Regions from separate parts of the Homo sapiens genome. Here all the other regions are reported to be linked to region 1. Evidence: microRNA targets listed by miRTarBase, many of them from high-throughput screens and not tested one by one. Region 1 holds a microRNA gene; each other region holds the end of a gene's coding sequence. Distances are from middle to middle.

Evidence for each region. Region 1 holds the annotated microRNA hsa-miR-4747-5p (AGGGAAGGAGGCUUGGUCUUAG, at 1,968-1,989, opposite strand). A microRNA usually pairs through its seed, bases 2 to 8, with sites in the 3' UTR of a target mRNA and lowers its output. Matches are read on the target gene's strand: a 7mer-m8 pairs with bases 2 to 8, a 7mer-A1 pairs with bases 2 to 7 and ends in A, and an 8mer does both.
Region 2: miRTarBase lists OLR1 as a target of hsa-miR-4747-5p. Seed matches in the 3' UTR shown: 7mer-m8 at 1,445-1,451.
Region 3: the mRNA of ARHGEF18 is a reported target of hsa-miR-4747-5p. Seed matches in the 3' UTR shown: 7mer-A1 at 3,649-3,655, 7mer-A1 at 3,424-3,430 and 7mer-m8 at 2,239-2,245.
Region 4: the mRNA of UNC119B is a reported target of hsa-miR-4747-5p. Seed matches in the 3' UTR shown: 7mer-m8 at 837-843.
Region 5: the mRNA of MARVELD1 is a reported target of hsa-miR-4747-5p. Seed matches in the 3' UTR shown: 7mer-m8 at 1,376-1,382, 7mer-m8 at 1,639-1,645, 7mer-m8 at 1,724-1,730, 7mer-m8 at 1,758-1,764, 7mer-A1 at 2,109-2,115 and 7mer-m8 at 4,659-4,665.
Region 6: the mRNA of RBPJL is a reported target of hsa-miR-4747-5p. Seed matches in the 3' UTR shown: 7mer-m8 at 1,419-1,425.

What each region holds. Positions count from the first base shown.
Region 1 is chr19:4,930,676-4,934,675 of GRCh38, reverse strand. It overlaps MIR4747 (microRNA 4747), which reads right to left and starts at 1,989; the gene lies at 1,936-1,989. UHRF1 (ubiquitin like with PHD and ring finger domains 1) reads right to left here. Exons shown (of 17, transcript NM_001048201.3): 4 at 3,800-3,960; 5 at 1,720-1,935. RefSeq lists an enhancer at 3,596-4,000.
Region 2 is chr12:10,155,892-10,161,000 of GRCh38, reverse strand. OLR1 (oxidized low density lipoprotein receptor 1) reads left to right here. Exons shown (of 6, transcript NM_002543.4): 4 at 76-215; 5 at 539-654; 6 at 980-2,700. The coding sequence ends at 1,121. Among named protein-coding and RNA genes, the nearest start is that of OLR1, 14 kb to the left of the region's middle.
Region 3 is chr19:7,469,372-7,474,480 of GRCh38, reverse strand. It overlaps ARHGEF18 (Rho/Rac guanine nucleotide exchange factor 18), which reads right to left. Exons shown (of 29, transcript NM_001367823.1): 28 at 4,452-4,577; 29 at 2,003-4,355. The coding sequence ends at 4,183. Among named protein-coding and RNA genes, the nearest start is that of PEX11G, 17 kb to the left of the region's middle. RefSeq lists a silencer at 1,277-1,326.
Region 4 is chr12:120,719,773-120,724,353 of GRCh38, reverse strand. It overlaps UNC119B (unc-119 lipid binding chaperone B), which reads right to left. Exons shown (of 5, transcript NM_001080533.3): 5 at 714-4,434. The coding sequence ends at 4,322. It overlaps MIR4700 (microRNA 4700), which reads right to left and starts at 1,161; the gene lies at 1,088-1,161.
Region 5 is chr10:97,713,090-97,718,198 of GRCh38, forward strand. It overlaps MARVELD1 (MARVEL domain containing 1), which reads left to right and starts at 641. Exons shown (of 2, transcript NM_031484.4): 1 at 641-2,896; 2 at 4,105-5,061. The coding sequence starts at 788. The coding sequence ends at 1,309. RefSeq lists an enhancer at 953-1,002 and a silencer at 1,313-1,532.
Region 6 is chr20:45,315,829-45,320,937 of GRCh38, forward strand. RBPJL (recombination signal binding protein for immunoglobulin kappa J region like) reads left to right here. Exons shown (of 12, transcript NM_014276.4): 10 at 359-514; 11 at 649-752; 12 at 858-1,996. The coding sequence ends at 1,131. Among named protein-coding and RNA genes, the nearest start is that of MATN4, 10 kb to the left of the region's middle.

The DNA of each region.
Region 1 (4,000 bases):
GACAACACGTCACGTACTATCACTCGGCCACAAAAAGGAGGGAAATTCCGACCAGGCTACAGCCTGATGCACCTCAAGGACATCACACTCAGTGACGTCAGTGAACAGATGCAAAGGACAAATCCTGTGTGATCCCATTCCTAGGAGGTCCCCCGAGTTGTCAGATTCACAGAGATGGAAAGTAGGATGCAGAGGTGTCAGGGGCTAGGGAGTGAGTGTTTCATGGAGTCAGAGTTTCAGTTTGGGAAGAGGACAAAGTGCTGGAGATGGTTGCGTAACAACGTAAATGCGTTTAATGCCACCGAACTGTGCGCTTAAACATGGTTCCAATGGTAAATTTTTGGCCGGGCGCAGTGGCTCATGCCTGTAATCCCAGCACTGTGGGAGGCTGAGGCGGGCGAATCACTTGAGGTCAGGAGTTCGAGACCAGCCTGGCCAACATGGTGAAACCCAGACTCTACTAAATATATATATATATACAAAAATTAGCCAGACGTGGTGGCGGGCGCCTGTAATCCCAACTACTTGGGAGGCTGAGGCAGGAGAATCACCTGAACCTGGAAGGCGGAGGCTGCAGTGAGCCAAGATCATGCCACTATACCCCAGCCTGGGCGACAGAGGGAGACTCTGTCTTTTAAAAAAAAAAAAAAGGTAAATTTTCTGTTACATACATTTTATCACACACACACACACACACACACACGCACACACACACACAAAGAGGCAAGGGAGAAAGAACAGGCTTTGCAAAATGATTCTGCAAATGGCCAAATAGGAAGGATTTTCAGCTTTGTAGGCCGCATAGTCTCTGTTGCAACTACACAACTCTGCTCTTATAACACAAAAGCAACCACAGGTAATAAGATAAAAATGGGTGTGACCACGTCCCAATAAAACTATTAGTCAAAGCCGGCAGCGGACCACAGCAGGCCTGTGGACTGCAGTTTGCCAACTCCTAAGCGGTGTGGTTTGGCGTGTATGTTTATGAACAGAATGTCCCTGGAAAGTTGGTAACAGTGATGTCGCCAAAAAGGGGAACTGGGTGACCAGGCAGAGGAGGGAGAACCTTCATGTGTGGTCTTGGGTGCTTTCTATTTTGACCCTGTGAATGGGACCTATTCACCAAATTTGAAACAAACAAGAGAGAAAAAGAAAGCTTGAGGCCAGGCACGGTGGCTCACTGCCTGCAATCCCAGCACTTTGGGAGGCCGAGGCAGGCAGATCACGAGGTCAGGAGATCGAGACCATCCTGGTTAACGGTGAAACCCCGTCTCTACTAAAAATACAAAAAAATTAGCCAGGTGTGGTGGTAGACGCCTGTAGTCCCAGCTACTCGGGAGGCTGAGGCAGGAGAATGGCATGAACCCAGGAGGCAGAGCTTGCAGTGAACCGAGATCGAACCACTGCACTCCAGCCTGGGCAACAGAGCGATAAAAAAAACACCATGAGAAAAAGGAAGTTTGACAACTCTGCCTGTCAGGGCCTGGGGGTCAGAGACAGTTCCCTGGGCAGAGGCACTCAGGGGCACAAGGTGGTCGGTCTTAGAAAGATGCTCAGCAGTGAGCAGGAACAGACCCCAGAGGGGAGGCAGGAAGGCCAGGCCGGAGGCTAAGGGCCTCGCACACACAGCGCTGGCTGGACGGCTTCAAAGCCAGTCCGGGGGCCCCGGGAGGGGAGGAAAGGAGAGAGGAAGGGCTCGCCCCAGGACGCGAGGCTCACCCCAGCACCACGTTGGCGTAGAGTTCCCGCGCCGTCCTGGTCTCGCGCTTCCTGGAGATCTCCGCGTCGTACCAGAAGCCCCGCTCCTTGGGGTTGTCGGGGTTGTAGTTGAGCATGACCACCTGGCCCACCTCCAGGTCCTGCCACTTGATGATGGTGCGGGCGCGCGCTCGGACGTCCCTGGAGTTCATCTGGACCACGCCGTTCTCCGGGTAGCTGGGAGGAAAGCCCGGGCCTTAGACCCCGTGCTAAGACCAAGCCTCCTTCCCTCAATGGGAAACGAGCCGAGGTGGGACGGCCCCTCCCGACAGTGTGCAGAGGCCCCTCCCAACAGGCTTATATGCTGGTGTTGAGAACACACAGGTATATTAAGGCACATTCCAGGTACAAAATTGTTATGGGTTGCCCGTGTCCCCTGCAAAAAGAGATGTTCAAAGGCTGATCCCCAGTACCCACGAATAGGATTGTTTTTGGAAACAGGGTCTTTGTAGATAGAACCTTTGCAGATGAAATCATATTAAGATGAGATCACACTGCAGTAGGGTGGGCCCCAATCCAACAGGACTGGTGTCTTTAGAACAAGAGGAGAGGCCGGGCAAGGTGGCCCACGCCTGTAATCCCAGCACTTTGGGAGGCCGAAGCGGGAAGATCACCTGAGGTCAGGAGTTCAAGACCAGCCTGACCAACACGGTGAAACCCTGCCTCTACTAAAAATACAAAAATTAGCCAGGCATGGCCGGGCACGGTGGCTCATGCCTGTAATCCCAGCACTTTGGGAGGCTGAGGCAGGCAGATCATCTGAGGTCGGAAGTTGGAGACCAGCCAACATGGAGAAACCCCATCTCTACTAAAAATACAAAATTAGCCAGGCGTGGTGGCGCATGCCTGTAATCCCAGCTACTCGGGAGGCTGAGGCAGAATTGCTTGAACCCGGGAGGCAGAGGTTGCGGTGAGCCGAGATCGCGCCATTGACGCCAGCCTGGGCAACAAGAGTGAAACTCTGTCTCAAAAACAAAACAAAAACAAAAATTAGCTGGGCGCAGTGGTGCACGCCTGTAGTCCCAGCCACTTGGGAGGCTGAGGCAGGAGAATCGTTTGAACCCGGGAGATGGAGGGTGCAATGAGCCAAGATCACACCATTGCACTCCAGCCTGGGGGACAGAGTGAAACTGTCTCAAAAAAATAAAATAAGCTGGGCACAGTGGCTCACACCTGTAATCCCAACACTCTGGGAGGCTGAGGCGGGCGGAACACGAGGTCAGAAGTTTGAGACCAGCCTCACCTACATAGTGAAACCCCATCTCTTCTGAAAATACAAAAATTAGCCAGGCGTGGTGGCCACACACCTGTAATCCCAGCTACTTGGGAGGCTGAGGCAGGAGAATCGCTTGAACCTGGGAGGCGGAGGTTGCAGTGAGCTGAGACCACGCCATTGCACTCTAGCCTGAGTGACAGAGTAAGACTCTGTCTCGAAAAAATAAAATAAAAATAAAATAAAATAAAAATACAAACATTAGCTGGGTGTGGTGGCGGGCACCTGTAGTCCCAGCTACTCAGGAGGCTGAGGCAGGAGAATCGCTTGAATCCAGGAGGCAGAGGTTGCAGTGAGCAAGTCAACCAATGTCCGTGTTTAAGCCACACCGTCTGTGAAATCTCACGATGGCAGCACGGACAGACGCAGCCACCATCTGTGTCCACTGGTGTGTGGACCCCGAACTTGGCAGGTAGGAAGTGCCCAGTAAACACTTGTGCAAAGACTGGAGACTGACGTTAGGGGTGGGGATGAGGGAGAGATGACAAACCCGGAAGATGGAATAAAACAGAAAAACTGATGGGGTGGCAGTTTCAGCCACTGATCGAGCAGAACCCTCCGCGGAGACACAGGAGGGGGCAGCCGGCTTCGGGTCCCCAGGCTAGTCCCCAAGTGGGCAGCCTCGTATGCTGTTAGGAATTCGAGGATGGGGCCCCAGATCCTGATCACCATCTCGAGACAGTGCCAAGCTCTGGCCTGAACACCCGCAGCCAAGGATGCGCGTCACAGAGCCTGAATACCCAGGCCCGCCCACCTGCCATGACTCACTCGTCGTATTTCACGTGGTAAATGACGTCCTCCTCCAGCGCCGGCCTGGACGTGGAGCTGCAGGGCTCGTCCCGGGAGGGGGCCTTCCGCGTCACCCTGACCACCTGCGCCTCAAACCACGCCCCCATGTTCGTGTCCCGAGCATCGACGTACTCATTGACCTGTGAGGAATGAGGGAAGTCTGGCATCCCAACGGGGTGA
Region 2 (5,109 bases), not on the chromosome of region 1:
GATCATTGATTTAAGAACTGCAGTACTGCTTTTACACAAACATAACTGACTGATGAGATATACTATCCTTCCCAGCTCCTTGTCCGCAAGACTGGATCTGGCATGGAGAAAACTGTTACCTATTTTCCTCGGGCTCATTTAACTGGGAAAAGAGCCAAGAGAAGTGCTTGTCTTTGGATGCCAAGTTGCTGAAAATTAATAGCACAGCTGATCTGGTGAGTGTTCATGGATATTTGTTGGGGTGGAGTATTGGTTGATAGGGAAATTAATCTGGTTTAAACTGTCACTGGAGGAATTCTTGTTTGAGAGCCAAAATGTCTGTTTTTTTAGCTTAGTCTGATCACCAATTTTGTGTATGACCTTGGACGGACAGGCTCTGTAGTATCTCTAGCCTTCAGTAAGTGTTTCCGTAAAACAGTCAAGGGGATGTCAAAGATACCTTTTGGTTCTTTAGTTTTGTGGATCCAACACTAACTGACTTTCAGATTCTAAAACCACCATGTGGATTCCACAAACTCAGAAACATTACTCCCCACAGGACTTCATCCAGCAAGCAATTTCCTATTCCAGTTTTCCATTCTGGATGGGGCTGTCTCGGAGGAACCCCAGCTACCCATGGCTCTGGGAGGACGGTTCTCCTTTGATGCCCCACTTGTAAGTTTCCCATTCTTTTTGATGCCTCTCTCGTCAGTTTCCTATTCTTTGCTGAACCTGCTAGTGAGGTCACTGCCTGCATCCCACCAATGTCCTCTTCTTGCCAGAGAGAAGCTTGGGGGAATTTCTCAAAGTCTCCTTCCTTACCTCTTTCACAAAAAGATTTACTCATTAACCATTCAGACATTTTCTTGAGTTTTCCTTCCCACATTTATTACTGATTGGAGGCTTTAAGACAAAAAGTTTCAAAAGCTAAGTTTCTGAAACAAGGTGGCAGTAAACCTAAGTTTTTTTGTTGGTTTGTTTTGTTTTTTCCTACCTGCAGATTTAGAGTCCGAGGCGCTGTCTCCCAGACATACCCTTCAGGTACCTGTGCATATATACAACGAGGAGCTGTTTATGCGGAAAACTGCATTTTAGCTGCCTTCAGTATATGTCAGAAGAAGGCAAACCTAAGAGCACAGTGAATTTGAAGGCTCTGGAAGAAAAGAAAAAAGTCTTTGAGTTTTATTCTGGAATTTAAGCTATTCTTTGTCACTTGGGTGCCAAACATGAGAGCCCAGAAAACTGTCATTTAGCTGGCTGCAGAACTCCTTTGCAGAAACTGGGGTTCCAGGAGCCTGGCACCTTTATGTCAACATTTTTGATTCTAGCTACCTGTATTATTTCACCTAGCTTGTCCCAAGCTTCCCTGCCAGCCTGAAGTCCATTTTCCCCTTTTTATTTTAAAATTTGACTCCTCTTCAAGCTTGAAAACCCTCTGAACTCAGTCTTCTTTACCTCATTATCACCTTCCCCTCACACTCCTAAAATTGCATGAAAGACAGAACATGGAGAACTTGCTCAAGTGCAGGCAGAGAGCAAAAAGGGGAAATATGTCTGGGAAAAAGTGCACGTGAAGAAACAAAGAAGGACAGAGGCCATTCCGAAATCAAGAAACTCATGTTCTTAACTTTAAAAAAGGTATCAATCCTTGGTTTTTAAACTGTGGTCCATCTCCAGACTCTACCACTTACGGACAGACAGACAGACAGACACACACACACACACACACACACATTTTGGGACAAGTGGGGAGCCCAAGAAAGTAATTAGTAAGTGAGTGGTCTTTTCTGTAAGCTAATCCACAACCTGTTACCACTTCCTGAATCAGTTATTATTTCTTCATTTTTTTTTCTACCAGAGGACAGATTAATAGATTTAACCCTTCACAACAGTTCTTGTTAGAATCATGGGATGTGTGGCCCAGAGGTAAGAATAGAATTTCTTTCCCTAAAGAACATACCTTTTGTAGATGAACTCTTCTCAACTCTGTTTTGCTATGCTATAATTCCGAAACATACAAGACAAAAAAAATGAAGACACTCAATCTAGAACAAACTAAGCCAGGTATGCAAATATCGCTGAATAGAAACAGATGGAATTAGAAATATATCTTCTATTTTTAGGCTTCTATTTCCTTTCCACCCACTCTTCACAGGCTATTCTACTTTAAAGGAAGCCTTTTTATTTTGCTGCACACAATCTAGCAGGAATCTTTTTTTTTTTTTAAGAGCTGTGTCATCCTTATGTAGGCAAGAGATGTTTGCTTTTGTTAAAAGCTTTATTGAGATATAATTAACATAAAATAAACTGAACATATTTAAAGTGTACTATTTGATAAGTTTTCACACCTTGTGGAGAACATGCATACTACAATTAAGAGAGTGAACATATCCATCATCCCTCAAAGTGTCACAATGCTCCTCCTGATGACTCCTCCCCAGAAAACCACCAATCGGCTTTCATTTTGCATTTTGTAGTTTTATGTGAATGGAATCATATAGTATGTCTTTTTTTTTTGTCTGGCTTCTTTCACTTTGCATAATTATTTTGAGATTCATATGTCTCCATCTTGATGCTCGTATGAATTCATTCTTTTAAATGTTGAATATTCCCTTGTATGGATATACCACAATTCATTTACCCATTTACTTGTTGATGACATTTGGGTTGTTTTAGTTTTGGGATATTACAAATAAAGCTGCTGTGAACATTTGTGTACAAGTCTGTATGAACATAGGATTTCTTTTCTCTTGGTTAAATACTTAGGAGTATAACGTCTGGATCACACAGTAGGTGTATGATTAACTATTTAGGAAACTGACAAACTCTTTTCCAAAGTTGTACCATTTTTCATTCCTACCAGCAGTGTATGAGTGCTCCAGTTCCATCTCATCCATGCCAGAATTTCATATGGTTCGTCTTATAGTTTTAATGATTCTAGTAGATATCGAATGGTATATCCTCATAGTTTTAATCTGTGTATCCTACAAATTTCTGTTTGTTGGTTTGTTTTTGAGACAGAGTTTCGCTCTTGTTGCTCAGGCTGGAGTTCAGTGGCACAATCTCAGCTCACTGCAACCTCCGCCTCCTGGGTTCAAGCAATTCTCCTGCCTCAGCCTCCCAAGTAGCTGGGATTACCGGCGCCCGCTACCACTTCCAGCTAATTTTTGTATTTTTAGCAGAGACGGGGTTTCACCATGTCGGCCAGACTGTTCTCAGACTCCTGACCTCAGGTGATCCACCCACCTCAGCTTCTGAAAGTGCTGGGATTACAGGCGTGAGCCACCGCCCCAGGCAAATTTTTATAAGCTTATTTACCATCTGTATTAGGTAACTTTGATAAAGTAACTGTATAAATCTTTTGAGAATTTTTACTTGGTTTATTTTTCTTACTGTTGAGTTTGAGAACTTTATATATTTGGGATAAAAACCTTTTATCAGATATGCATCTTGAAATGTTTTTCTTGTCTTGTCTTTTTTTTTTTTTTTTTGAGAGGGAGTCTCACTCTGTTGCCCAGGCTGGAGTAGTGCAATCCCAGCTTACTGCAACTTCCGCCTCCCAGGTTCAAGTGATTCTCCTGCCTCAGCCTCCCAAGTAGCTGGGATTACAGGTGCCCACCACCATGCCTGGCTAAGTTTTTGTATTTTTAGTAGAGATGGGGTTTCACCATGTTGGCCAGGCTGGTTTTGAACTCCTGACCTCAAGTGATCTGCCTGCCTTGGCCTCCCGAAGTACTAGGATTACAGGTGTGAGCCACCGCCCAGCCTGTCTTTTCATTCTTTGAACAATATACTCATAAAGCAGAAGTTTTTTATTTTAATGAAGTCCATTTTTATTATTCTGCTGTGGTTTGTAAGAACTCATTGACTAACTCAAGGTCACAAAAATTTTCTCCTTTATTTTTTTCTAGACATTTTATAGCTTCAGGTTTTATACTGAGGTCTATGATTTATTTGGGATTAATTCGACAAATGTAAATTTGTCGAAAAGACTATTTTTCTTTACTAAATTGCTTTTGCACCTTTATCACCAATCAGTTGTCTGTATATTCATGGGATTATTTCTAAACTCTCTATTTTATTCCACTGATTGTTGTATTTTTGTATTTGCGTATTTATACACCACCACCACATTATTTTGAATACTGTAGTTTTATAATAAATCTTAAAATCATGCAGTGACAGTCCTTCAAATTTATTTTTCTTTTGCAAAGTTACATTGGCTGAGCTATGTCACTATATTTTCCATATTGATTTTTGAATTGGCTCACTAATTTCTACAAAAACTCTTTTGGAATTCTGATTGTGATTACATTGAATCTACAAATCGATTTGGGCAGAATTGAAACCTTAAAAATATTGATTTTTCTGACTCTTGAATAAAGTATGTCTCTGCATTTATTTAGGTATTTTAAAATTTCTCTGAGCAATGTTTTGCAGTTTTCTCTTACAGATATTTTTACATATTTTGTTAGCTTACCATATATACTTCATAGTTTCGACGCTACTGTACATGGGAATTATCATTGATAATTTTAATTTCCAACTGTTTATTGCTAGTATGGAGAAATATAATAGACTTTTAAATATTCACCTTATATTCTGAAACCTTGATAAACTTATTTGTTTCTTCTAGTAACTTTTTTTGTAGATGTCATCAGATTTTCTACACAAATAATCATTCTGTGTGCCAGCGGAAGCACTTCTATCTTTTCCTTTCCAATGCTTTTATTCTTTTCCTTGCCTGAACCTCCCGTTCAATGAGAAATAAAAGTAGTGAGAACAATATCCTTATTTTGAAATTGATCTTGAGAAGAGATCATTCAGTGTTGCACCACTAAGTATGGTGTAAACTGTAGATGTTTCATAGACGTCCTTAATCAGTTTTAGGAAGTTCCCTTTTGTTCCTTGCATTCTTAGAGGACTGATCAGGAATAGGTGTTAATTTTGTCTAATATTTTTCTACATCTATTGAGATGATTATATATACATTTTTATTTTAAAAATATCTAGTATTTTCTTTGTTTTTTTTTAGGTTAAAAATTTCTAGTCTTTTAACATGAATTACACTCATTAATTATATAAGGTTAAAACAATTTAGGATTGCATTATATTAATGGATTAGATCTG
Region 3 (5,109 bases), 2.5 Mb from region 1:
CTTGAACCTGGGAGGCGGCGGTTGCAGTGAGTCAAGATAGCGTGCCACTGCACTCCAGCCTGGGTGACAGAGCAAGACTCCATGTCAAAAAAATAAATAAAAATGTAATAAATTAATTACATCCTTTTTTTCTTTTTTTTTTGAGACGAAGTCTCACTGTTGTCCCCCAGGCTGGAGTGCAATCGTGCAGTCTCGGCTCACTGCAACCTCCGCCTCCGGGTTCAACCGCTTCTCTTGCCTCAGCCCCCAGAGTAGCTGGAATTACAGGTGTTTGCCACCACGCCCGGCTGATTTTTGTGTTTTTAGTAGAGATGGGGTTTCAACATGTTGGCCAGGCTGGTCTCAAACTCCGGACCTCAGGTGATCTGCCTGCCTCGGCCTCCCAAAGTGCTGGGATTACAGGCGTGAGCCACTGCGTCCAGCCCTTTTTTCTTTTTTTTTTAAATTTCATTTCTTTTTTCTATCCCCCAAATTTCCTTTTTTTTTTTTAAGCTCTTATAGACAGGGTCTCACCATGTTGCCTAGGCTGGAGTGCAGTGGCACGATCATAGCTCACTGCAACTTTGAACCCCTAGGCTCAAGCAATCCTCCTGCCTTGGCCTCCTGTGTAGCTGGGATTACAGGTGCACGCCACCATACCTGGCTAATTTTTTTTTTTTTTTTTTTTTTTTTGAGACGGAGTCTCGCTCTATTGCCTAGGCTGAGTGCAGTGGCGCAATCTCGGCTCACCGCAAGCTCCGCCTCCTGGGTTCACGCCATTCTCCTGCTTCAGCCTCCCGAGTAGCTGGGACTACAGGCGCCCGCCACCACGCCCGGCTAATTTCTGTATTTTTAGTTGAGACGGGGTTTCACCTTGTTAGCCAGGATGGTCTCGATCTCCTGACCTCGTAATCTGCCCACCTTGGCTTCCCAAAGTGCTGGGATTACACGCGTGAGCCACTGCGCCCGGCCAACCTGGCTAATTTTTTAATTTTTCTGTGAAGGGGTTTCACTATGTTGCCCAGGCTGGTCTTGAACTCCTGGGCTCAAGCTATCCTCCTGCCTCAGCCCCCGCCTCCCCAAAATGCTGGGATTACAGGGATGAGCCACTGTGCCCGGCCCTCCTTTTACTTTTTTAATATGGCTACTAAAAATGAAAAATTCCACACGTGGCCTGCATCATCTTCCTGGTGGACAGTGCTGCCTGAGAGTTCCCTTTTTGCGCTTCCTAGTGAGCTAGTGATCGACTTTACACCTAGTCCCCTTGTGATGGGAAACCCTCTGTTGAAACAGCAGGGTCCTCGCCTCACTGGACCGGGACTCAGACCAGGTGGAAATGATGATTTCATACTCATGGCCAAGCTGCCTCTCACCCCAGATGGAGGAAGTGAAAGTTCCAGCCTTTGCGGTTATTGTGGATTAAAAGCAAAAAGATTTTCGTGGAGGCGCCACCAAAGCCTGAAGTGTACCCGGTGGGCAGGACCCTCCACAGGCACCTCCACGCCCCACTCCTGCCCTGTGCCCGTAATCCCAGCACTTTGGGAGGCTGAGGCGGGCAGATCACTTGAGGTCAGGAGTTCGAGACCAGCCTCGCCAACATGGCGAAACCCCATGTCTACTAAAAAAATACAAAAATTAGCTGGGCGTGGTGGTGCACACCTGTAATCCCAGCTACTCAGGAGGCTGAGGCAGGAGAAGTGCTTGAACCCGGGAGGCAGAGGTTGCAGTGAGCTGAGAACCTGCCACTGGTCTCCAGCCTGGGCGACAGAGCAAGACTCTGTCTCAAAAAAACAAACAAACCAAAAAAACAGAAACAAAAACAAAAACAAAACCCCCAACAACTCCTGGGGACTGGACCTGAAGGGGTCTTCAGAGCGTTAAGCAGGACACGGAGGGCAGGTGAGCGAGCTGAGGGGCAGGAGCCATGGGGAGCCCCCAACAGAACCTGCTACTCCTGCAGCAACGTTTGGGCAGAAGAAAATCCTCAAATAAAACCTCCAAGAACGTGCACGCCAGTCACCGCTCATCTCGGACACGTTTATTGCTAGAATCAGGTCTTAAGTTCTAAAGCGGGTCAGAAATATCCCGCAGTGAGGAAATGTTGTAATCATTGTAAAAATAATTAGCAGGTGACTAAGATCATGACCACAACTGACAAAGACGTGTGCAGATCCCACGAAAATAGGAACATTTGCTCGACTGTCAACTTTACAAATAAAATCGGGCTCCAACCCAGGAGTGGCCGAGGGGCACTGGCGAGGGAAGGGCTGTCGGCGCTGCCGCCCGATGCCTAGCACGACTGAGACCCCTCTGCCACATGGCGGGGACGCGGGGTTCCCACCGCGTGGCCGAGCAGAAATTCCTTGAACTTCTCCCCCATCCAAGGAATTGTGGCATCTCGGAGGGCTGGACCGGCACACGCCGGCTCAGGAGGGTGCCAGGGTCTGGGAATGTTCTCTTCACAACAGAACAGGAATGTACAGTCAGCTTCTGTAAAGTGCTCCGATACTCAGTACAAAAATACAAAACACTGATGATAAACATGGCACACATGGGATCTGACGGGGGGCGGACAGCGTCGCTGATGGCCAGGGACCGGGCTGGGCAGAGTTGAGGTCGTCGGAGGGGCCAGGAGCCTGGGGACACCTGGCCACTGTGTTCTCAGGACCTTGTCACCAATGGGCTGTATGGCTGTGGGGCTCTGGTTCCCGGTTGGCACCAGCTCCTGCCCCGCCCCCTCCTGAGCCCACAGCACCCAGTGGGCGCCTCTGCCCAGGGGAGCACTTCCTGATGGAGTTTCCCCTCCCTTGTGCCCATCTGTCCCCGAGTGGCGGGAATGTCCCTGTTCACTGTATTCAGCGTCACAGGAGTGCCTCTGCCAGCACAGTGGGAGAAGGGCTGAATCCCCCCGGGATCTGCAGTTCCCAGGACCCTGGGTTCGGGAGAAGGACTTGGCCCTGGCAGGGGCTCACATGTACCCCACTGGGAACAAGGACGATCAGCCAGGACCCAGTCCTACCACCAATGCTTGGGGTGCAGAACAAGGCTTGACATGGGCCCTTTCTCCACCGGAGCTGGATCGTGGATGGATCTCACCACCCTGGGATGTCCCAGCACCTTTGATGCTGCCCAACACCTCCTTCCTCCACCCCTCCAGGGAACGGACCGTAAGCTGCAACAGCTCACTACAAGCGAGGGGCCCGCACAGCGGCCACTTGTCCACTTGCTGCAACGTCTCTAGGTGCATCCTCTGCATGCCCTGGGACATGGCGCTCTCGACAGTCTGTGATGTGCCAGCCCCCACCTGGAAGGTGGGACGCCAGCCCTGGGAGCTCATTTCCCGGGGGCTGAGGACCCTGTGCCCAGGGTGTGTACCCGCCCTGGCTGAAGCTAGAGGCCCGCTCCCCCAGACAGGCTGAGCGTGTGAACAGCAACGGTTGCCCTTGGGAAGCAGAGTTTGGGAAACAGCTGGTTTCAAAACCAATGCCAAGTAAAAAGGGGCAAAGGTCAGCCCCTTTCACGATGGGCTTCCAAACCCACAGAACCTGACTGGAGGGCCACTGATGTTCCCTCAGTGGGCCCTGCCCCGTGGCCCTCTCTGCCCATGCCCCCGTGCCTGGCTCATTCCCTGACCCTGAGGTTCATGGTGAACCTGCGTGGGGCTCTGTTTGGGAAGTGGATTCTGCCTGATTCTGGGGACAGATGCTGCCGACGCCACCTGGCCCCTCCTGGTGCCCTAACCCTTGGCTCCACTGTCGCGCGGCGGCTGTGGAGCGTGGCCCCGGCCGGCAGCTCCTTCTCAAAGCAAGGTCTGTCCTGTCCTCAGCTCCGTGCAGAGCCGGCACCGTTCCTCACTGCCTCGGAAAAACAGCTCGGAGTTGATCTCCCCGCCACCCGGATGGGGTGCTATGATTTCAGACAGCTCCCTGGTTTAGTTCTGGCTCAACTTTCCATTAAAAACTTTCCTTTTTGAAAAAAAAAAAAAGAGATTCAGAAAGTGACCCCGGCACCACCGCTAACCCTACAGAAACAGCTGCAAGGCCCAGAGCACCGACAGGCTGGCCCCTGCCAGGCGGTCATCAGTGGTTTGCTAGGGAAGAGGAGGGGACAGCTGGGTGGGCATGGTGACCCCATGGGGGTCCCCAGAGAGCAGGAAGGGTGGGCAGGGCAGGGAGGGGCCTTGCACCTTGAGTCACGGCCCTTTTAGAAGAAGATGACGTCTTCTTTGCTGGCGTCCTCCTTGGCGCTGAGTGGTGTGGCCGGCAGTGGCGAGGGAGCTGGGGGCCCGGGCAGGAGGGCTGTGCCCCCGGCCTTGAGAGAGAAGCCCTCGGAGGGGCTGTCAGCTGGCGGTGGGCTCGGGGCGGGGAAGCCAGGGTCTGGAACAGAGAGAGGGTTCAGACTGAGCAGTCGCCGGGTGGTGCCGCAGCCCCGCTGCCCTGGGACTGGGCTCATGTCAGGGGGTGGGGGCTCACCTGGTGGGGGCGCAGGACTGTGTCTGCCGGGCAGGATAGGGCTCAGCGAGCGGCGGTTCCGTGAGGTGCTCTCATCTTTCCCCATGAGCTTGTTGAGCAGCAGCTGCTGCTTCAGGTCGAAGGACGCTGGAAGAGAGAAGGTATTTGGGCCAGCTCCAGGCTGGCCAGCTGTCCCCACCCGCCAGGGCAGCCTCCGAGAGCAGAGGGGCCTGGCCACCCCCACCTGACACTTCCCACGGGCGGCCTGGATCCCGTGACCTGAGCTGCTCAGATGCTAAGCCCCAGATTCAGGGAGAACGGCCCCAACCTCCCTGCGGAAGGACCTGCAGAGTCACCCGGCATCTGGAGAGGAGGCTGAGCCTCCTGTGGAAATAGCACAGGCCCTAGTGACCACGGGACACACCCTTAATCTTCAGAGAACATCCCAGAACATCCCTGGTTGTCCCCCAGGGAGGTGTCCCCCAGAGGAGCTCCTGGACATCCTCCGTGGAAACACTGGGGCTGCTCTGGGCTCCGTGTCCCACTCTGTGGAACGGCTCTGTGGAACTGGGACAATGAGCAGAGGCGCCTGCACCTGTCCCTGTCCCGGCTGTGCTGATCCCACGTGGCCAGGGATCTCTGCCTTCTTGCCCGTGTCCCTTTCTAAGGCTCCTGGTCC
Region 4 (4,581 bases), not on the chromosome of region 1:
GCAAACACAAGGAACTCAGGAACTTTCTGAGTGGGTACGATGGAAATGTCCTATATCATGATTGTGATGGGTAATAAAAGTATTCATTTGTCAAAATGCATCAATACTCTTAATTGAGGTAAATTTTACTGTAGTTAAAGTATTTCTTAATAAGCCTACCTTTATGGCCAGCCACAGTGGCTCACACCTGTAATCCCAGAACTTTGGGAGGCCAAGGCGGGTTGATCACCTGAGGTCAGGAGTTCAAGACCAGCCTGGCCAACATGGGGAAACCCTGTCTCTACCAAAAATACAGAATTAGCCGGGCGTGGTGGCATGCACTTGTAATCCCAGCTACTTGGGAGGCTGAGGCAGGACAATCACTTGAACCCGGGAGGCGAAGGGTGCAGTGAGCCACCATCATGCCATCACATCCCAGCCTGGGAAAAAAGAGCGAAACTCCATCTCAAAAAAAAAAACCCTACCTTTAAAACATGCATGTAAACTTTCAATTTACAAAGCCACTCACCCTGGGAAAATATAAAGCAAAAATATTAAGCCTAAAGTCCAGTACAATTCCTCAATCACCCTAGAAGCCAGCTATACTCTAGTTCAACTACTTACAGAAGGGCCACATAATAGCCAAAGTAAGAGAAACCTGGAGCCCCCATTCGCCCCTGCTCCCCTCAGCAACACAACGGGCCCAACAATCAGGAGACAGGACGAGGGAGACGTACTGTGAAAATCTTTCTTTTATTACTGTCTCATGTGGCAAAATAACATTTTATACAAATAAGTCACCTAGTTTACTTTGGACACAAAGACAATAAAAACTGGAATGTGATTTTGGGGGAAGCGGGAAGGAGGAGGAAGGACAGATCAGGTCATTGATGTTTCTTATATTCTGTAAAAAATAGATTTACAGGAAAAAAAATAGACTTTCACAACTTCAATGACTTTACACGGTCCTTTGTAAAACCAGTGGTAAATCCACCTCCACCAAATCCTTCTTGAGGCTGATATGTTCTGTGACATGGAATGTGAGTAACACAATGGTTCAATGATTAGGCTCCTACACCAGGTACAGCAGCACCTGATGCCACAGGAATCCTCGTGCACTGGGGTGAGGAGTCAGTCCTGTGAATTTCAGGACACACTGTCCTCATCCCCAGACCTCACTGACATCATAGTGACACTGGCCATCAGAAGAAAGTGACTTTACAGAGGGGAAAAGAGTATCCTGGAAGCGTACCGGTGGGGCAGGACACACTAAGGCAGGACTCACCCAGTTTGTACATTAGACACAGCCTATTAAATCCATTCCAGAAATGAGTTCCACTTCAACTGAAAAAATAAACTGAAGATTGCCCAATCACTGCCATTTCACAAATTTCCAGTTTATGGTCAGCCCCAAAATCACATTCTTCCACCCTATGTATTGGAAATCAAATGGCCCAAAGACTGAGGTGTCTTCAGGAAGCACATGCTTGAAAAATGTTTTCTCTGCAAAACAGTATTGAGTAATACATAAGGAGACATAGCCTACTTTAGCCCAAAACTTCTTTCACTTGTTATGTCCTTTTACCTCTTAAAACATAGAATGAAATAAACTCGGATCTTCTTTGGAGAAGCTAGAAGGGCATTTTGGCCCAAAGGCTGTACAGGAAAAGAGAGGCTCTCTCCAGGAGACTGCAAGGCAAAGGAACAGAAGCAGGAGGGGCAGGCCCTCTGGCACCAGGTGGGCCTGCTACTCTGATGAAATGTGCTCCCAGCTCTTGACAAAGGGCAGGGTCTCCTATGCAGGTAGTTTTTTTGCCGCCTCCCATTGTATCACCCACAAGGTAACTGCTATCAACAGTTCAGATTCCTTAATAACATGGCAGCCTGAATGGTTCTGTTACTTTCAGAGAAAGTATGCCTTGCAATTCTCTCCCCAACTCAGGTACAAACGCTTGAATTTCAAACTCATACTGGTTTACACCCCAGAGTGGAATGCTTCTCAAGATTTCCTGAGCAGCTAGACACAGGAACCCACAGCCCCAGATACAGAACACCAGACTTTCAGAAGCAGCAAAGCCCTGTCCTGCTGGGCATGGACCAAGCACTATCCGCAAATGGTCTCCAGTGAGACTAAGGCAAGCTAACAAGGAAGAGGATACAGCACAACTCAAGCCAGATTGCCCACCTCCTCCTTCCTCCACATCCTCTTTCTAGCAAAAGCGAACACTGCAGATAAGAGATAGCCCACTAATGTAGCAGATACAGTGTGCCCAGGGGCATGTTTCCAAGACACACTCTACTAAGCACAGCTCTGGGCAGCTCCAGAACCACATCCCAGATAATACTCAAATATCAAATAGTAGAAACTGTCCCACCTGGGCCTCTGTCAAAGAGAGAAGGGATTGTTGTTACGCTTGACAGGAACATGCAAATCCCATTTGAGGAGCCACAATGAGAAACAGAAGGTGAGGAGACAGTGCTAACAGCCCTGGCATCTTTCTGCCAGTGAGGAGGTGGGAACAATGGCAATGCAGCTTTCCCCTGCAGCATAAGGGACAGAGCCACACGTAAGGCACCTGGATTTACAGTGGACGCCAGTTCTGAGAGTGGCCGGTCTGGTGATAAGGAACCCACTCCACAGGAGGAATGGTCTCTCCCCTCTCTCGGGGCTGAATCCAAGGCCAGCACACAGGGGTAAGCTAGGACCTTCTCAGTGAGAAAGCTGCCAGCATGTGGCATTGCCAAGACTCTGGCCTGGGACAAAGCACTGGGCCAAGGTTCGGGGCCACTCGCCCTAAAGCCCACACAGGGAGCAGCACTGGTGGTGGATGGACAGGAATTTCTGTGGCCACACACTGTCTCTTCCATCCCTGGCCCCCATACGGCCTTTCTCCCAAGCACATCAGGACACTCTCCTGTCACAGGTACTGTGACACCTCACAGTCACTTACCAGATACCTGGGCCTTTCCTAGTGACATCCTTCTACTGATGCTAACTGGACCCTGGCCACATCAATCGTCTCATCAGAGGGTTTGTGGAGTCTGTCCACTAAGGGTCTGAGGACAAAAGCAGCCCACAGATGTGCAAGTGAACTTTTTTGAGAACACATCACTCTGACAGGCCACATCAGCCTATTTTGCCCTTTCTGAACACCTAAAACAATTCTAACTAGCAGTCTGAAGGCTCAGACTGCATTACGTAACTCTGATCCACCAGGAAAGTTCCAGAAACTACTTCAGTAGAAAGGTAGATAGGAAAACCCTCCTAAACAAGAAATGTACAAAGAGCTTCGGAGGCAAATCCCCATCAAAAGCCAATCCTCCAGGCTGTGCAGTGCAGAGAAAAGTCAAATCTCTCCTTTAGAAAGCTGCTGCTGATTCGTAAGCATATCCTCCCAACATAAGCCAGATTAGCCCCTGGAAGCTGATACTATCAGAAGTCTAACCACATATCACATATGCTGGGAACACCACTGTCATTTTATAAAACCTCCCCGAAAGAAGTCTGGAAATAAAAAAACAAAATACAAGACCTGCTCTGGCCTCAAGAGATACTACTGTTCCATGAGCAGAGCTGACTCATTCTATTTCATGAGACTCAGAAGGGAGGAGCCAGGAGATGTGGAGCAAGCTTGTCTGTCCTCCAAAATGGGAACAGAAGGCACTGCCAGGCTGAAAACTTGGTCTATTCCCAGGAGGGCTGGCTGAGACCCTGGAAGTCAGACAGAGCAGCAGCCTCTCCACAAAGCAGACCCTTCAGCTTGGCAGCATCACCCATTCCTTGGTGCCTCCACTCTTGGCACCTCCCTCCCTCCCCACCCTTTCAAGTGTCTTCCAGTTGGTTTAAGACTTCACACAGACCGAGGGCAGACTGCGCTGATGGCAATGCCGGAGGTGAGAGGAGGAGCTACCTGGAAGAGGCCTACCTTTCAGCTTCCCACAGCACCCAGGAACCTTAAGAGCTGCTGACCTGCTGGTGGGCCTGGCCAGAGCCTTCTCACCAGGCACAGCTATGCCTGGTCGTCAAGACAACCAACAGGCAGCCAGAACTACGGAAAATAAACTTTTTTATCTGGATTCCAGGACCCTTATCCTAACCTTTTACTTTACTATAGTACCTCTGCAACCTACGGGGCAGGAAAAAAAGGGAAGAAAAAATACTGGGGAAGAAAACACAGCACTGTTTGGCAGCTCCTTTGGCGCGCAGGAAACTGCCACCCCAGCCTTGGCTTCCTGGGGCCAGGTTCCAGATGTGTGTTGACAAACTGCAGCTTCGATCATCTCCGTGTGCCAGGATCTTGTGGCCGCGGCAAAGCACCTCCCCTATCTACTCTTGCAGCACTTACTGGCCTCCATTATAGGCATAATCAGCCTTGTTGTGCATTATCAGCTTGTTGTCAACAAAGTAGAAGCTGTCAGAGCGGGTCTCGTAAGGATTTTCAATCATTAGACGAACTGCAAGTCAGGCAAAGGGGGAAGAAAAAAGCAAAGAATTATGTTTGAGTCTGCCCCACAGGGTAGGTGGGAGAAAACTTTGCATCCCCTCCAAAATAAGCCAGCGCTTCAGAGTATACTCTGCCAGAATAACGATGAGGTCAGAAC
Region 5 (5,109 bases), not on the chromosome of region 1:
GCGTATTTTGAATGTGGGCAAGACAGAAGGATGGCAAGGAAGGGTTGGATAAAAGAGGGTGTGGACAATAAGCTTGTGCCGAGTGGAACGAGTGGCGGTGCCTCTGGTGGGTGATGGACTCTTACTCCGACATGGGTAACTCGGACAGCTTTGGACAGGACGAGGCGGGCCCTGGCAGGAGACTGCGGATGTCCAGGTGACAGTGGATGCCAGTTCAAAACCAGCACTGCTCTCCTCCCGCGCCCAGGAAGAGCCCAGAGGCCCGGGGTGGGCGCTATGGCAGGAAAGAGGGAAAAGGAGGAGGCAGGGCGGGCAGGGGCGGCCCCAGATGTGGCAAACTTGGCGCAGCAGCGCACGGGCGGACAGGGCGGAAGGCCCGCGTCGGGCTGGGAGATGCGCCCTGCCCTGGCCCGAGGACGAAGGAATCCGAGCTGGGGGCCTGGCGCAGAGGGGAAAGGGGGGCGCCAGGGTGGTGAGCGAGATGGAAAGAGAGATGGCAGGAAGCCGGGAGGAGCGCGCGGGGGAGGAGACAGCCGAGGGGAAGGGGAAGGGAAAGGGGCGGGTGGGAAGGGTGGAGAGCTGGAGACAGAAGGCGAGGAGGGCCGAGGGGAGGAGAGAGGAGAGGAAGGGTGGGGAAAGGAGGAGAGGAAGAGAGGACTAAGAGGGGAGCAAGGCGAGGAGGCCGCGGCGGGCGCAGCGGGCACCTGGGCCGTGCTGCCCCCGCGAGCAAGGCGCCGCCATTCCGCTGCTCGGGGCGCCGCCGCCGCCGCCACCGCGCCCAGGGGCCATGCTCCCGCCGCCCCCGCGCCAGCCGCCGCCCCAGGCGCGTGCGGCCCGCGGCGCGGTGCGCCTGCAGCGGCCCTTCCTGCGCAGCCCGCTGGGCGTGTTGCGGCTGCTGCAGCTGCTGGCCGGCGCTGCCTTCTGGATCACTATCGCCACCAGCAAGTACCAGGGCCCCGTGCACTTCGCGCTCTTCGTGTCCGTGCTCTTCTGGCTGCTCACCCTGGGCCTCTACTTCCTCACGCTGCTGGGCAAGCACGAGCTGGTCCCCGTGCTGGGCTCGCGCTGGCTCATGGTCAACGTGGCGCACGATGTGCTGGCGGCCGCGCTCTACGGCGCCGCCACCGGCATCATGAGCGACCAGATGCAGCGCCACAGCTACTGCAACCTCAAGGATTACCCGCTCCCCTGCGCCTACCACGCCTTCCTGGCGGCCGCCGTCTGCGGCGGCGTCTGCCACGGCCTCTACCTGCTTTCGGCGCTCTATGGCTGCGGGCGTCGCTGCCAGGGCAAGCAGGAGGTGGCGTGAGGCCGCCCGCGCCCGCCGCGGCCCCGATCGGGGCGGGGGAATCCCCGGAGACCAGCCTCCTTAATCCCTTCCCCCGCCGCCGCCCCGCGCGGGTGCGCCCTGGCACCCTCTCCCTGCCCTCCAGCGTTTCCACTGTCGCCCGCGCCCGGGAACCCTGACGCTCAGCTCCCGCCCGACGGCAGCGCCGCCGCCGCCCAGAATCCCAGCCCAGAATCCCGACCGCCGCGCCGGACGCGCCGTCTCCCGGGACAAGCGCAGGCTGCGATCCGAGGGGCTGACACACACTCGCAGACGAGCCGCCCCGAGGCGAAACCTCGCGGTTCCTCTTCCCTTCCCTGCTGAGACTAAGACGTGGACAGGGGCCGCGCAGATCCGGGGGAGGCTCCCAAATTGGAACCAGGCTTCTGGCTGCCCCCTTCCCTCCCGCCCCGTGGTCGGAAGAGCACTCCCTTCCCTGGCCCCTCATCCAGCCTCCGGTGCTGTAAAACGCAGGCGCTGGGCCGCGGGCGGAGCTGAGGACAGGCCTTGGCTGGTCCCAGGATGAGCGACGAGTTTGGTTTTAGCTGGGGATTGTGCTGGCATCCTGCGAAGCTCCTCCCAGCCGGTCTCTCTGTGCTCGGTTGTCTTGGGGTGGGGCCCATCCGCCGAGGTGGGGACCGATAGGAGAAGCCGGTGGGTTGTACCCTTACACTTGTGGAGTCTCCTCTTGCCTCTACCTACTCCGCCTTTGTCCTTAAGGTTTTTGCAGGCCAGTGCCAAACACACACTAACTGTCCTGGCCTCTCCGTGACACAAGTCTCTTCCCAGCCTTCCTCACAGGCTTCTGCCGCCCCCCTCATCTCCACCCTCCCCCATATCTGTTTGCATTAGGAGTTCCACGACCATGGTGGAATGTTAAGGTGAACCCCACCCCTTCTTACAGATGGGGACCCAGAGCCTGCTCTTGGGAACAGCCAGAGTAAGATTGGAACCCAGACTTGCAGTCCAGCGCTGTTTGCATTAAAAGGGTGGGTGAGTCAGGACCCCTGGCTCAGGAGCCGCCTCTCCTAAAAGAGGGTTTCAAGGCCAAATGGGTTTGTCAACGGTGCTGTCTCCCTTTCTTGGAGATGCTCATTAGCTTATCAAAGACTGAGAAGTCCCGCTGTTACAGAAATAATTTAGTTTGCTGTATTAACTGCTCCTGGGCCTGGAGCAGTATTCCCACCTTAAGATTCCCAGCATCCCTGTGCTGTCCCGGCTCTCATTCATGCCGAAGGGCCCAACCCATTGGCTGTGTTCTGTTTGAAGATTTGGGGGGCGCCTTCTCTTTCTTCCCCAGGGAATTCTCTAGCAGAGGGAGGGGACCCACCCCAGTGAGGAAGTAGATTGCTGCCTCTAGCCAGAGACCTGAACTGGGGAATTTGAACATTCCTTTACATTGTTGGAGAAATGAAGCCAAAGTTATTCAGATGGTTTTCCCAGGCTAAAGGAAAGTCACCTGCAAGAGATCCCGGCACTGATCTGGAGCAGCTGACAGGGTGGGTCTCCCTTACCAAAGAGAAGAACCACTCTCTGGCGCTGGGGTGACCTGCTGGCTGGGCCTGTAAGGTAAGACGCTTCTTGGTTTTCTGGAAGGGGTCCTGGGCATTTGAATAAAAAGCACAGAGCCTACTCCTTTTCCAGAAGTTAAAGGGTTTTTATTCAGAGCAAGTTGGAGAGGTGACGGTAATAACCACAATATCTACAGAGTTGTGAAAATTCAACCTTTTTGCTAAATCCTTCAATGGTCTGCTCTTTTATTTTTTCTTTCTCTTTTGTTTTGTTTTTGAGGCAGTCTTACTGGGTCACCCACGCTGGAGTGCAGTGATGTGATTATGGCTCAATGCAGTCTCGACCTCCCAGACTGAAGCGATCCTCTCACCTCAGCCTCCCGGGTAGCTGGGACTACAGGCACATACCACCATGCCTGGCTAGTTTTTAAATTTTTGTAGAGACAGGGCCCCATTGTATTTTGCATGCTGGTCTCGAACTCCTGGGCTCAAGAGATCCTCCCGTCTCAGCCTCCCAGAGTGTTGGGATTACAGATCTCAGCCACTGTGCCTGGCCAGGTCTGCTGTTTGAAAAGGCTCAACCTTCTCTGGATTAGAAACTAGAAGAGGGGAGGCTGCGTGTTTTTGTGAGCTTGTTTTTAAAGCTTAGGTGCACAGGTGTTAGCTTTCTCTGTGGAGGCTGCAAAGGTGTAGTTTCAGGGTGTGTGAAGCATGAATGTAGTTCTAGATATGTTGCCATCAGAGCACCTATGTAGCTCTATTATATGGTTGGCACGTCTCAAAGCATTTTATAGGTGTCCATTGATTCTCTCAGTAACCCTAATGAGGTGGGTTCTAATGTCATTGCCATATTCCAAATGAGGAGGTTGAATCCCAGAGAGGTTAAATACCTTGCCCAAGGTCTCCCAGCTAATGAGTGGTAGAGGTAGGATTTGAACCCTGGCAGCCTGGCCTCTTCATGACCAGGCTATACTCTATATAGTAGGGTATCAATACATGTTAGATACTGTTAATGTAGCTATTTTTTAAATTGTGGTAAAATATACATAAAATTTACCATCTTAACCATTTTTAAGTGTATAGTTCAGTGGCATTAAGAACATTCACAGCTAGTCGCAGTGGCTCATGTCTGTAATCCCAGCACTTTGGGGGGCCGAGGCTTGAGACTAGGAGTCCCCTCAGCCCCAAGTGCTGGTGCAGTGAGAGCCTGGGGTGAGACACTTGGGGTGCTTTGGAAGCCCTTTGACTTTGGTTCTCCTGTTGCAGGTTTCCATGTTGCTGAGGCCATGGAGATTCCCAGAGCTGGTCACACCGACCGCTCTCAGGGCCCGCTGCCCTGGGCTGGCAACACCATTCTGGCCTTGGCCTGCAGAAGCTTTCAGAGTCTTCACTGGCAGTAGGGGGAGATGGGGAGAGGAATGATCTCTGCCCAGCCCCTTCCTTTCCAAACCATGCAATGGAAGAGCCCAGATGGGTGAAGATTGATTTTGCCTTAACTCAAGAGAATTCCTGTTCTCCTTGTGCTATGATTTGGACACAAGATTCTGGATACCTGGAACTTAGCTGTGTACTCCTGTACCCTAAACAGTGGATTTGAGTTCCAGCGTTTATTCTTTTTTCCTTTTTTCAGATCACCATCTAAGTTACATCTTTAGCTCAGGTCCATCCTTCTCAAGATCTCCTTCTTAGCCCCCCAGCCCCTGGTGCTGTCTGTGGTCAGGTGACCTTACTCAGGAGCAGATATCTCCTTGGCCGCCATGGAGCCTCATCCATCCACACGTGCCTGTAGCATTCCAGAGCTCACTGCCCTTCTAGATGTGCCTTCCCGCTTGGCTTCCAGCGGCTTGTGCTCACTCTGTCTGCCAGGTATGAGAAGAACACGTAAGACCGCCACCACACTCACCCTCCCTCAAGGCCCTGTGCCATAGGGGTGGCCACCCGACCTGCCCCCAGAACTTTTGGATACTGGAGGCAGTTGCATAGGTCTCCCTCTCTGGGCACCAGGACTCAGTCCAGCCCAAGACTACTCTGGGCAGCTCCCATCCCAGTCTGGGGCCATTTGCAGACTCAGGAAAGGATTTCTACAGTGTTCTATAAAAGCCAAAAGAGAGAGTGGGTTTGGGAAGAGTGAGGGTGGTTGGGGAGAGGGGACCGATGTGCCTCATTGTTTAGTGGTGATTACAAATATGCTTTTCTGGATAAAGTTTGGTTGTTTGCTCTTGGTGTGTGTGTCTTCTGTCCTGGTCCTCTGTAGCGTCCCTCCATGTGAGG
Region 6 (5,109 bases), not on the chromosome of region 1:
AGAGAAAGAAAAGAAAAAGAGAAAGGGAAAGAAAGAAAAGGAAGGAAGGAAAGAAAGAAAAAGAAAGAAAGGAAAAAAGAGAGAGAAAGGGAAAGAAAAAGAAAAGGAAGGAAGGAAGGAAAATAAAGAAAAAAGAAAGAAGAAAGAAGAAAGAAGAAATCAGCTAGCTCAACAAGCTTTCTTAACGCTAAGTGAGAGAACTTAAGGGCACTGTCCAAGCTGAGGGGACAAGTGAACCCCAGAGCCTAGGATTAGTATCCAGTTCGGTCTAACGCAGAAGCCCACGCGCCATGCTGGCTCCCTACACTGGTGGCCACCATGAGAAGCTTCGGCCTCGTCCCCTTGGGTCTCCTCCCAGGCCTCTCCCTGCCCCAAGGAGGCGAACAGGGCTCTGCTTAACGACAGCTCTTGCTGGACCATCATCGGCACCGAGTCGGTGGAATTTTCCTTCAGCACCAGCCTGGCGTGTACCCTGGAGCCGGTCACTCCGGTGCCTCTCATCAGCACCCTAGAGGTGAAGCCGGGCGCTAGGGGCGTTGGGCAGGGGGACCCTGCCTGCACTGGGCAGTGGTGGTGCTAGTGAGTGGGGGGCAGCGGGTTCCCGCCCTACTTGGTTCTCTCACCTCACCTGGTCCCACCCTCCCCCAGCTGAGCGGCGGGGGCGACGTGGCCACGCTGGAGCTCCACGGAGAGAACTTCCACGCGGGGCTCAAGGTGTGGTTTGGGGACGTGGAGGCAGAAACCATGTACAGGTACGGGGTGGTGAGGCAGCCTCTCTTGGGCCCCGGGGAGCAGGGGAAGGGGGTGCACGCGTCGTCGGAGTCGCCGCAGCCCTCACCCTGGTGCTCCACCCCCAGGAGCCCGCGGTCCCTGGTGTGCGTGGTGCCGGACGTGGCGGCCTTCTGCAGCGACTGGCGCTGGCTGCGCGCTCCCATCACAATCCCCATGAGCCTGGTGCGCGCCGACGGGCTCTTCTACCCTAGTGCCTTCTCCTTCACCTACACCCCGGAATACAGCGTGCGGCCGGGTCACCCCGGCGTCCCCGAGCCCGCCACCGACGCCGACGCGCTCCTGGAGAGCATCCATCAGGAGTTCACGCGCACCAACTTCCACCTCTTCATCCAGACTTAGGCGCGCCCGGTAGCCCCGGCTGCCCACCCTGGAGGGCTGCGCCCGCGCCAGGCGCGGGGACGTGTTTCTGGGTTCTAGGCCCTGCTTCCTTGCCCCTTTGCTGCAGAAGGGCAGCTGAAGGCTCACCCTAGAAACCGGGCCTGGTGGGTCTTACCCGGCTCACTCCCTCCCTTGTCCTTACACATACAGGAAGACAAGACCTGAGTGGTGCTGTCTTTGTGTCCGTCGTGTATGGCTCTCCCTGTCTTCATTTCTTCTCACTCTGTCTCTAAACCTCTCTCTCTCTCCCTTCCCCCTCAGTACTTAGTCTACAGACCTATGTGCGTGTCCCTATCCTTCTGTCCTTTTCTCTCTTCAGCTCTCCCTGCCTCTCACACACAATTTTACATGCCCCGAGGAGCCAAGTTTGGGACATTTACCCTCCAGGCATCTGTGTCCCCTCTTGAAGAGAAAACACACAGCTTCACACATCCAGGCATAGGGGGCAAGCTCTTGGGGCATCAGGACCCTGGAGCACCAGGTCCTTCCTGGAATATTAGATCCACCTGGAGCACCGGGTCTCTCTAAGTCTCACCTGGGGAATTCGGTCCCACCTGGGGCACCAGTTCCCACCTAGAGCACTGTGTCCTGCCCTAGAGCACAAAGACCTGCTCCTCCCGAGACTCTCTCTGACTGCAGCCAGGCATAGTACCTTTGCCTGTGTTTGCTCCCTGGTCCACAGATTTGGTGGCTGGGCAGGTGCCTGGACAGTGATGAGGTCTTGCCGCCTTAACTGTCCCCCCCAGTCACTTCTCCCACAGGCCCAGCAGGACGCAGTCCTGAGGATCAGGGATTCTACAGCTGCATTAAAATCAATCCTATCCAAGGCAGAGTTTGGTCTGTATGAGCCACCTCCCCAAGTGTGCCTCCCCCAACCCTCGCACCAACACACAAAAGAGGGGACCTGCACAGAAAGAAAAGAACCACAAGTCTGATGGAGCAGAGAGCCTACCTTTTGGACGTTTTCTAGAGGAGGAACAGGGTGCAGAGGCAGCTGGCATCCTGAGTCCCTGTCCCTGCCCTGGGGTTGTTACCCTACTAGCTATCTCTCCATCCCAAGCAAGGGTGCACCCCAGGCCCAGAGGTGACCACGGGACCCTTTCAAAACAAAGCTTTCCCAGGATAGCCCTGGGCAGAACTCCTGGGATTGACTGGGCAGTAATGTAGTTGAGAGGGGGGCCTCTCTGCATGGGGCTGATGGACAGAATCACAATCTATTCCCCACCAGCCTACCCACCCTAGGTACCACTCTACCCAGTCTGTGCTTTATAGGGAAGGAAAAAAAAACCAGGCAGAACACTGGCTTGGGCTATTGGAATCAAGGACACAGATAAGTATCATGGGTGCCAGCTACCTGCACCAGCCTCTGGTGGTGCCTGATGGGAAAACTGGTCTGAAATGTGGGTTCTAGGTTCTAACCCTCTGGAGAAGAGCTTGCCCTCCTAAGGAAGAGCTCATTTCTTGTAAAACTCCTCCCCCAGGGTATGGAAAGTCCCATGAGAAAAAAGAAACGAACAATACGCAGAGGAGAGGAAATGGGGTATGTTCTTTAGCCTTCCCAAAGTCTTGACTAAGTTCTGCCATCTGCCATCAGCAGGCTGCAACCCACTGTGAGGGGTGAGGAAGAAGCCTGTGGCCCCTGAAGGTGAATCTTGGCTGAGGAAGGCAGCAAATGAGTTGAATGGGAAATGTCCCTGAAATGAGCGCCTGACTCACCGTCCATGGTGGTGTTGAAGCAGGCAGCCAGGAGGGAGGAGGCTGAGAAGAGTGTCATAGCGCACCACATGGGGAATTGGGGCTCAAGCGCTCATCGTCCAGCCCTGCCCCCAAAGTCTTCCTCCACCACTCCTCAAGGCAGGAGTCCCAGAAGCCAATAATCTAGGTTGGACCAAAAGCCCAGACCCAGCCATACAGCTCTGTCTTAGTCCTCACCCATCTCAGGGGATCCTATAACCTTTGGTGTCCCCAAGGTATCCATCTGGAAGTCTGTGACCAAAGCTCCAGCCCTGGCCTAGCTTCTGAGTTCCAGCTGCTGAAACTGTCCTTGGAGGTCTTCCTTGCACTGAGTCTGAAGCCATCTAACATCAAACTCCTTTCCCTCTCCACCTGCCTTGCAGCACCACCTCTAGCTCCTTCCCCCACACCACCCAGTCACCCAGGCCTAAGGATCCCACCCCCACTTCCACACTACCATATGCCTCCTGTTTTCCTCTCCCTCCACTACTGCCCTGCCAGGTCCTGTGTCGCCTCTTCCAAAATTTCCCAAACTACTCTAGGTAGAACTAGCTATATAATTTGTGGGCCCCAGTGCAAAATGGCCCGTTGTTCAAAAATTATTCAAGAATTTCAATTCGACTGAACACGGGATTAAAAAAAAAAAAAGAACTTCAAGACAGCCACAGGAAATGATGAAACCAAGTGCAGGGGCCTTCCAAGCACAGGCTGCACAACCACGAAGCCAGCCCTGGCCCCAGGCTTTTTTCTTGTATTCCCACAGACCCTCAATGGGACCATATCGACTGCCTGCTTTGGATCAAAGGTTTTACCTACATGCCCATTGTCTCCTCTAGGCTGCCATCTTCATGGGGAAAGGAGCTCTTATCTCTGCATGTCCTAAAGGGTGCATCACAATGCCTCGCATGTTGAGTTGGTGCTCAATAAACAGTGAATTGCATTATATGGCATTGGCAGATATTTAGATATTGCTAATGCAAAGTGAAACCGGCAGGTGGCACTGTTCTCCACCCGAGCATTAAGTTCTCATTTTATTTATATTTAAAAACCGGGCCTTAATCCCAGCCCTTTGGTAGGCCGAGGCGCAAGGATCACTTAAGCCCAGGAGTTCGAGACCACCCTGGGCAACATAACAAGACCCCCTCCCCCATCTCTACAAAAAAATGTAAAAATAGGGCCGGGCGCAGTGGCTCACGCCTGTAATCCCAGCACTTTGGGAGGCCGAGGCGGGCGGATCACGAGGTCAGGAGATAAGAGACCAACCTGGCTAACCCGGTGAAACCCCGTCTCTACCAAAAAATACAAAAAATTAGCCAGGCGTGGTGGCGGGCGACTGTAGTCCCAGCTACTTGGGAGGCTGAGGCAGGAGAATGGCGTGAACCCGGGAGGCGGAGCTTGCAGTGAGCCGAGATCGTGCCACTGCACTCCAGCCTGGGGGACAGAGTGAGACTCCGTCTCAAAAAAATAAAAAAATAATAATAATAATTAGCCGGTGTGGTGGTGCACGCCTGTAGTCCCAGCTATGGGGTGGGGGCGGGGGGATGCTGAGGAGGGAGGATCACTGGAGCACAGGTAGTGGAAGCTGCAGTGAGCTGTGATTGTGCCACTACACTCCAGCCTGGGTGACAGAGGGAGACCCTTTGGGGGTTTATGCACAGAATTCTACATACTTCCAGGGAATTTCCTAACACTAAAACCCATTTATGGATTAATTTAGTCCTCTTTATATTAGAATCATTTGCCACGCTATAAAAATTAATATACCGGGCCGGGCGCAGTGGCTCACGCCTGTAATCCCAGCACTTTGGGAGGTCGAGGTGGGTGGATCACCTGAGGTCAGGAGTTTGAGACCAGCCTGGCCAACATGGTGAAACCCTGTCTCTACTAAAAATTCAAAACATTAGCCAGGCGTGGTGGCGTGTGCCTGTAATCCCAGCTACTCAGGAGGCTGAGGCAGGAGAATTGCTTGAACCCAGGAGGCAGAGGCTGCAGCGAACTGAGATCACGCCACTGCACTCCAGCCTAGGGTCTCTCCAGCAGAGTGAAACTCCGTCTCAAAAAAAAAAATAATACTAATAATATACCGGCCACGCCATGGAACAATTCTATTAACATCTCTGAGTGTGGAGCTCAGGCATCTGTATTGTTTGAAACCCTCCCATGTGAATCTAGTGAGCAGCCAGGGTTAAGAATCATGGCCCTAGT